Linked DNA regions of Homo sapiens. The protein of the gene in region 1 purifies or fractionates together with the protein of each later gene. This does not show direct contact. Each region holds a gene or a part of one and is shown in the gene's direction. Other genes may lie near its edges.

Region 1 (3,813 bases):
GACGTCTCTTTCTAAGTTTAGCTGGAGCATGGAAGAAAAAGGAGAACTGGAAAGTACAGTTCTCTGCCTTCTCTTTGATTTGTGGGTGGTTGTCTTCCTGTTGTCCAGAAATGGTTTGGTCATTCAAAAATCCAAAGGGATTACTTAGATCCTGGTTGTCAGCACATAGAGGTTACTCAAGATCTTAAAAATGAGGAGATAAGGCCAGGCATGGTGGCTTACGCCTGTAATCCCAGCAGTTTTGAGAGGCTGAGGCAGGCAGATCACTTGAGGTCAAGAGTTCCAGACTAGCCTGGCCAACATGAGGAAACCCCATCTCTACTGAAAATACAAAAATTAGCTGGGCGTGGTGGCATGCGCCTGTAATCCCAGCTACTCTGGAGGTTGAGGCAGGAGAATTGCTTGAACCTGGCAGCGGCAGAGGTTGCAGTGAGTCAAGACTGCACCACTGCACTCCAGCCTGGGAGACAGAGCAAGACTCTCTCAAAAAAATTCTTGTTGTGAAAATTCAGGTGGTACAGCCGTGTTAAAAAGTAAAAGTTCCCTTTCATTCCCTGCCACAGTCACACCCCTCAGAGGTGAGGTAATCTATGGCTTGATGTATACTTCCTGATCGTTTTCTGGGATACACACACACACACACACACACACACACACACACACACACATTCTGTCCTTCTTTTAAAGTACAAAAATGGAAAAAAAAATACAAAAATGGGATCATATTCCTATGAAGCCTTCTGATGATTTCGTCTGCCCGTAGTGAGATTATACACTGTTCATAAAAGCACAAACTTCCAGAGTTCCAGACTCCATGACAGCTATTTCTCACTGTAAATTACTTGACTGGTTGTGGCCTCGGTCATGTGGCCTCAGCCTTGGCCATGTGAGATGGTCAGGGCTCTGAGCTGTCAGGGCTGAGGTGAATCAATACCGTCTGTAAGGCTTCTTGGGCAGCAGCCTGCCAGCCTTTCCGCTGATGTCCATATGTGCCTCTTTACACTTCCCCTCAGTAGTGGCTTTGAGTGGGGTTCCTGCTGGTATTTCTTACTCGCATTTCTGTCCCCCCACCAGGGAAGAAGGGCTAGTTGTTGTGTGACCTTTGGTTGGCCTGGTGTTTCCTGGTTCCTGTTGATCCATGGGGAAAAGTCCTTTGCCTTATCAAAATATTTATATTCCTTCAGCATAAGAGTGAAATTACCTTCTTAGTACTTTGAGCTTTTCCTTTCCACTTTCTTAGACTGGCTTTTTAGGTGCCCAGCAATGAATATGAAAAACTGACGGCAGTGTTTGCATTCAGGCAGTGGTTGCAGGAATCCAGCAGGCTCACGCGGAACAGTTGGCCAACATGAGAATCCAGGATCTGAAAGTCAGCCTCAAACCCCTGCACTCAGTGAACAACCCCATTCTGCGGAAGAGGAAGTTACTTGGGTAACTGAGCTTATTTCTTCGATTCTTCTTCATGGCTGGAATGGCTGAGTACTGGGTTCTGAAATTTAAGAAATTTAACTTGCTCAGCTAGGGGTCTTTAGCCTCTGAAGAGGGTGGAGAGGATAAGTTCTTTAAATAGTATCAGGAGTTGGACACTATTGTTATTTTTCTGATACATCTGTTGCCTTATGTTTAGAGGTAATATCTGTCCAGAGTTGGTTTTTGGGGTCTCACGTTGTCATTACCCCTCCCTCAAACTCTTAAAGCACCAAGCCAAAGGACAGTGTCTATATCCACGACCATGAGAATGGAGCCGAGGATTCCAATGTTGCCTTGGAAAAACTCCGAGATGTGATTGCTCAGTGTATTCTCCCCCAGGCTGGTAAAGGTCACACCATTTACTAATCCTCTGTGTGTCTGTGAGTGTGTGTGTGCAGGGGTGGGTGGGTGTATGCATGCACATGGCAAAAGGAATGGTTTAATTTTGGGTTGTCTGTTTCATCTTGTGTTATAAGAAAAGTACATTATATAAGGTAGTCTATGCCCACTAAAAAGATTGGACAGTGGGAGCTTAGAAATGCAGTTAAGTTCTGCCCCTCCTTTGTTTCTGTGGAATTTCTAGTTTAGACTTAATTGGCAGTGTCAGGTGCAAGCATGCAATTTTGTGTTTTCTTAGTTTGACAACAAGGGCACAGGTTGGGGGATGGAGAATGGAAAATGTGGGTAGGGTCTGAATCTCATTGCAGGCTGTTAACCATTTCCAGAGCCTTTAGAGTGCAAGGCTGCCATTAGCTCATAAATAAGAGAATACCTCCTTAGTTCAGAAGTGGCTCCTGCTGCTACTCATGTCATGGGCAGAGTGACTTACACGTGGGTCCTTTGGAGTGAGAGCTTTCTTTCGTTATGTTCTCTCTCCACTCATCGGCGGGTGAGGGGCTATTCTCAGCAGATAAATGAGATGCTTCACGTACTAGGCCAGAAAACAGTTGGGTTGACCTATCTATCTCCCTAGATTCCTTGGGTTTTAAGAGAACTCATGTAGTGTACCTCAGATAGCTTTCTAAAGTAAGAAATGAGCTTAGGGGAGAGAAAGTAGCCCACTCTCCCACTTTTTGGTCTTTGGTTGACCAGGTGTCTTTTGTTCAGCAATAGAGTCTGCCACAGCCTATTTCCCATCCCCTGGTGCTAAGACTCTGGGGCCATCAGTGGATTTGTATAAAGATGTCAGAGTAAAAAAGAGTCCACATACCAGATGCGGTCTACATAATGTAGGGACTAGCAGTAAAGCCCTTGTCTGGTGAAGTTTTGCACATTCAGTCAACATTTTTCAACCAGTTGGACATCACGTCCCTCCATCTCTCACACTAAAACCCCATGATGCTGCAGGAAAAATGCAAATTCCTCTTCATCCTTACCAATAGGAGAGAATGAAGATGAGAAACTGAATGAAGTAATGCAGGAGGCTTGGAAGTATAACCGGGAATGCAAACTCCTAAGAGATACTCTGCAGAGCTTCAGCTGGAATGGTAGGAGCCTTCATCAACTCCCTTCCCCAGGAATGCAGACAAGTGATTATGTTTAGAACATATAGGATCTCTTTGGGGCCTGAGCTGCGGCTGTTTTGAAGTGAAGTGAGGCTGGCTGGAGAGTGAGTGGAGCATTGTGGAATGGGGGTTAGCTCTACATTAACTGCCCAGGCATACCTGGATATCTGGCCCTTTCACTTATTTTCCGGAGTTCAAGTGAATTGTGTATTGCAGATTCAACACTAGAAAGCCCCCATCACACACCACTTGGGTAAAAAAAACCCCCAAATTTCAGAACTCCTCTCAGATACCAGGACTATTCACCAGGTCATTAAGAAGCAACAGATGCTGAAGGGGAGAAAGAGGACAAAGTGCCAGCGAGTCCACCCTGCTGATCCCGCTGATCTGCTTGGCTTAGAGAAGAGCTGTTTCACGAAAGAGGAGAAAGTTTGCCAAATCTACTGCTGGTTAAGTTTTTTTCCCGAAGCAAATAAGGTAGAGATGAATTTCTTGAACTGCCTTGTTTTTCTTGAGGCGGAGTTTCACTCTGTCCCTCAGGCTGGAGTGCAGTGGCGCAATCTTTGCTCATTGCAACCTCTGCCTTCCGGGTTCAAGTGATTCTCCTGCCTCAGCCTCCCAAATAGCTGGGACTACAGGCAAGTGCCACCATGCCCAGCTAATTTTTGTATTTTTAGTAGAGATGGGGTTTCACCATGTTGGCCAGGCTGGTCTTGAACTCCTGGCCTCAAGTGATCCACCTGCCTCAGCCTCCCAAAGTGCTGGGATTACAGGCGTGAGCCTCTGTGCCTGGCTTGAAACTGATTTTAATATTGTCTTTCCAGTTGAGCAAACTGTA
Region 2 (3,813 bases), on another chromosome or scaffold:
CCCAGTCTTGCCTGTCACCCAGGCTGGAGTGCAGTGGCGTGGTCTTGGCTCACTGCAGTGTCCGCCTCTGGGGTTCAAGCAGTTCTTCCGCCTCAGCCTCCTGAGTAGTCGGGACTACAGGTGTGCGCCACCATGCCCGGCTAATTTTTGTATTTTTAGTGAGGACAGGATTTCACCATATTGCCCAGGCTGGTCTCGAACTCCTGGGCTCAAGTGATCCACCCACCTCAGCCTTCTAAAGTGCTGGGGTTGCAGGTGTGAGCCACCGTGCCCGGCCCTATTATGTCATCATTTGCTGAACAGCATCAACAACTACAACAGCAGTTGCTTTTTTTTTGCTTTTTCGTGACTTCATATTTGGACTTGACTCTTTGAGAAGTTGGCTCAGATCTGTGACAAAGCAGTTCCCTGCATTTGACCCTTGTTCCTACTGACAGCAAGTACCTCTTAAGGTATTGGTGGACCTTAAAATAAGCAAATTTGTTCTCTGCCTGCACGCTTAGGGAATAACCTTCTTGGAATGAAGGAGAGGCTGGGCACGGTGGCTCACACCTGTAATCCCAGCACTTCGAGAGGCTGAGGCAAGAGGATCGCTTGAGCCCAGGAGTTCAAGATCAACCTGGGCAACATGGTGAAACCCTATCCTTACTAAAAATACAAAAAATTAACTGGGCGTGGTGGCCTGTAGTCCCAGCTACTTGGGAGGCTGAGATGGGAGATTCACCTGAGCCTGGGATTTTGAGGCCGCAAGGAGTGGTGATCACGCCACTGCACTCCAGCCTGGGTGACGGAGACCCTATCTCAAAAAAAAAAAAAAAAAAAGTCTCCTTTGTTCTATCTCCTCCACACATTTGTTTGCAGACCTCGAAGGCACTCTGTGGGTAAGCTCAGAACAGTGGCATTCTAATCTGGTGTAGATAGTTGGGGGTCCTTAGTCATTTAGAGAGTGACCTTGTGCAAGGCTTATCCCTTTGCTTATTTCGTGAGCGTAGTGGACTGATAAACTCTGCCATTTTTACCCCTTTGGAACACAGCAAGAGACAGGATTTCTACAAAGCTTTGAACTTCAAAGTTGAAATTTAAAAATTTCTTTAGACTAGTTTTCTTTCTTTTTTTTTTTGAGACGGAATCTCGCTCTGTCACCCAGGCTGGAGTGCATTGGCGCAATCTCGGCTCACTGCAACCTCTGCCTCTCAGGTTCAAGCAATTCTCCTGCCTCAGCCTCCTGAGTAGCTGGGACTACAGGTGCGTGCCACCACACCCAGCTAATTTTTTGTATTTTTAGTAGAGACAGGGTTTCACCGTATTAGCTAGGATGGTCTCGATCTCTTGACCTCGTGATCCGCCCACTTTGGCCTCCCAAAGTGCTGGGATTACAGGTGTGAGCCAGCGCGCCTGGCCTAGTTTTCTTTTTCTTTATGCAGTCTTAGTAACCCAGAAAGGGAAAGGTTCCTAACATTTCACACCCACCAGGCCATACCCCCCAGCAGCAGGTGTCTCTCCTGAGATTGTTTGCCCCTTGGAAGGGTCTTTAAATGGACACAGGAGGCCAGGTGTGGTGGCTCATGCCTGTAATCCCAGCATTTTGGGAGGCCAAGGTGGGCAGACTGCTTGAGACCAAGAGTTCAAGACCAGCGCGGGCAACAAAGAGAGACCCCCCACCCCCACCCCACCACCCCAACCATCTCTACAAAAAATAAAAATTTGGCTGGGCGTGGTGGTGTGCGCCTCTAGTCCCAGCTACTCAGGAGGCTGAGGTGGAAGGATTGCTTGAGCCCAGGAGGTCAAGGCTGCAGTGAGTTATGATTGTGCCACTTCACTCCAGCCTGGGAGGCAGAACGAGACCCTGTCTCACTAAAACAAACAAAGAAAAGGAATGTAGTAATAGAACTCATATATTTGGTAAAGAGAAAAGCACTCAAAGTAACTCGCATGCAAGTAAAAAAGAATATGGTGCTGTGTGTGCTACCTTCCAGCCTTATGTCCCACATCCTTTTTTTTTTCTTTCTTTCTTTTGAGACAGGGTCTCTGTTGCCCAGGCTGGAGTGTGGTGGCGTGATCTCAGTTTACTGCAACCTCTGCCACCTGGGCTCAAGGGATCCTCCCACCTTAGCCTCCGGAGTAGCTGGGATTACAGGCACACGCCACCACGCCCAGCTACTTTTTGTTTTTTTTTTGTAGCGACAGAGTTTCACCATGTTGGCCGGGATGGTCTCGAACTCCTGACCTCAAGCGATCTGCCCACCTCAGTCTCCCAAAGTGTTGGGTTTACAGGCGTGAGCCGCTGCGCCTGGCCTGTATTTTTTTTTTAGAGATGAGGTCTCGCTAAATTGCCCAGGCTGTTCTCAACCTCCTAGGCTTGAGTGATCCTCCTGCCTCAGCCTCTCAAAGTGCTGGGATTTCAGGTGTGAGCTACCATACCCCACCAAGAGGAAGTTCAGAAGGATTCCAGATTGAAGGAATGATCTGCTGAGTAGTAGAAAAACACAAGTGATGAACAGAAAACACATTGCATTGTTTTATCCGTTCTAAGAAGTGTCTTTCTTTTAGGGAGAAGAAGTGGGTGACTGTGGGTGACACGTCCCTGAGGATATTTAAGTGGGTTCCTGTGACAGACAGCAAGGAGGTAAGTGTGGAAGAAAATCAAAAGATACCATTTTCTTTATTTCTTTATTTGATTGCCTCTTTTTTTTTTTTTTTGGGACGGAGTCTCGCTGTGTCACCCAGGCTGGAGTGCAGTGGCATGATCTTGGCTCACTGCAACCTCCACCTCCTGGGTTCAAGCAGTTCTCTGCCTCAGCCTCCCAAGTAGCTGGGGTTACAGGCATCTGCCACCACACCCAGCTGATTTTTGTATTTTTAGTAGAGACGGGGTTTCACCATGTTGGTCAGGCTGGTCTTGAACTCCTGACCTCGTGACCCACCTGCCTCAGCCTCCCAAAGTGCTGGGATTACAGGCGTGAGCCACTGCACCCGGCCTAATTGCCTTTTAATTAAAGGAATTTATTTGCCCAGAATTGAGTGGAAAATACTTCAAGGTACCCTGTTATTGGTCCATGCAAGGCCTCTCTTTATTATTTTCCTACTTTATTCCTTTCCCTTAACCCAAGCCTCTTTTCCAGGGCTTGACAAACTACAGCCCTGGCGTATTCCTTAGGTTTGTCAGTATAGTTCTATTAGAACATAACTGGCTGGGCGTGGTGGCTCACGCCTGTAATCCCAGCACTTTGGGAGGCCAAGGTGGGCGGATCACTTGAGGTCGGGAGTTCGAGACCAGCCTGGCCAACATAGTGCAACCCCTGTCTCTACTAAAAATACAAAAAAAGTAGCTAGGCCTGCTGGCAGGCACCTGTAATCCCAGCTACTCAGGAGGCTGAGGCAAGGAGAATCGCTTGAACCTGTAAGGCAGAGGTTGCAGTGAGCCAAGATCCCGCCACTGCACTCCAGCCTGGGCAACAGTGTGACACACCATCTCGAAAATAAGCAAACAAACAAAAAAAACCAAACACATAAGTATGCCCACTGATTTCCTTATTGTCTGTGGTGCTTTTGAATTACAGTGGCAGATTGAGTGGTTGCCATAAGGCCAAATGGCCCGTAAAACCTAAAATATTTATCATCTGACCCTTTAAGAAAAAGTTTGCTGATACTTGCTCTTATGCGATTAGTCCCCCACTGTATTGTGTGTATCATATGTATATACATCTTTCTAATTCTGGTGTAGACCTTTGTGCTTCATCTTTGTTGGATGTATTTGGATACCTGTATATTCTTTAAAAATACATAGCATTGTTTCATATGTGTATTTTTGTG

The links.
Region 2: the proteins of MAPKAPK5 (region 1) and BCL7B purify together in Homo sapiens (affinity purification with mass spectrometry; one large-scale study listed by BioGRID and IntAct). This does not show direct contact.

The regions. Positions count from the first base shown.
Region 1 is NC_000012.12:111,887,188-111,891,000, forward strand, and holds part of MAPKAPK5 (MAP kinase-activated protein kinase 5), read left to right. Parts: intron 1-1,300; coding exon 1,301-1,431; intron 1,432-1,697; coding exon 1,698-1,813; coding exon of another isoform or gene 1,814-1,819; intron 1,820-2,852; coding exon 2,853-2,957; intron 2,958-3,813. UniProt on the Homo sapiens protein: Tumor suppressor serine/threonine-protein kinase involved in mTORC1 signaling and post-transcriptional regulation. Phosphorylates FOXO3, ERK3/MAPK6, ERK4/MAPK4, HSP27/HSPB1, p53/TP53 and RHEB.
Region 2 is NC_000007.14:73,550,980-73,554,792, reverse strand, and holds part of BCL7B (B-cell CLL/lymphoma 7 protein family member B), read left to right. Parts: intron 1-1,123; coding exon of another isoform or gene 1,124-1,245; intron 1,246-2,550; coding exon 2,551-2,626; intron 2,627-3,813. UniProt on the Homo sapiens protein: Positive regulator of apoptosis. Plays a role in the Wnt signaling pathway, negatively regulating the expression of Wnt signaling components CTNNB1 and HMGA1.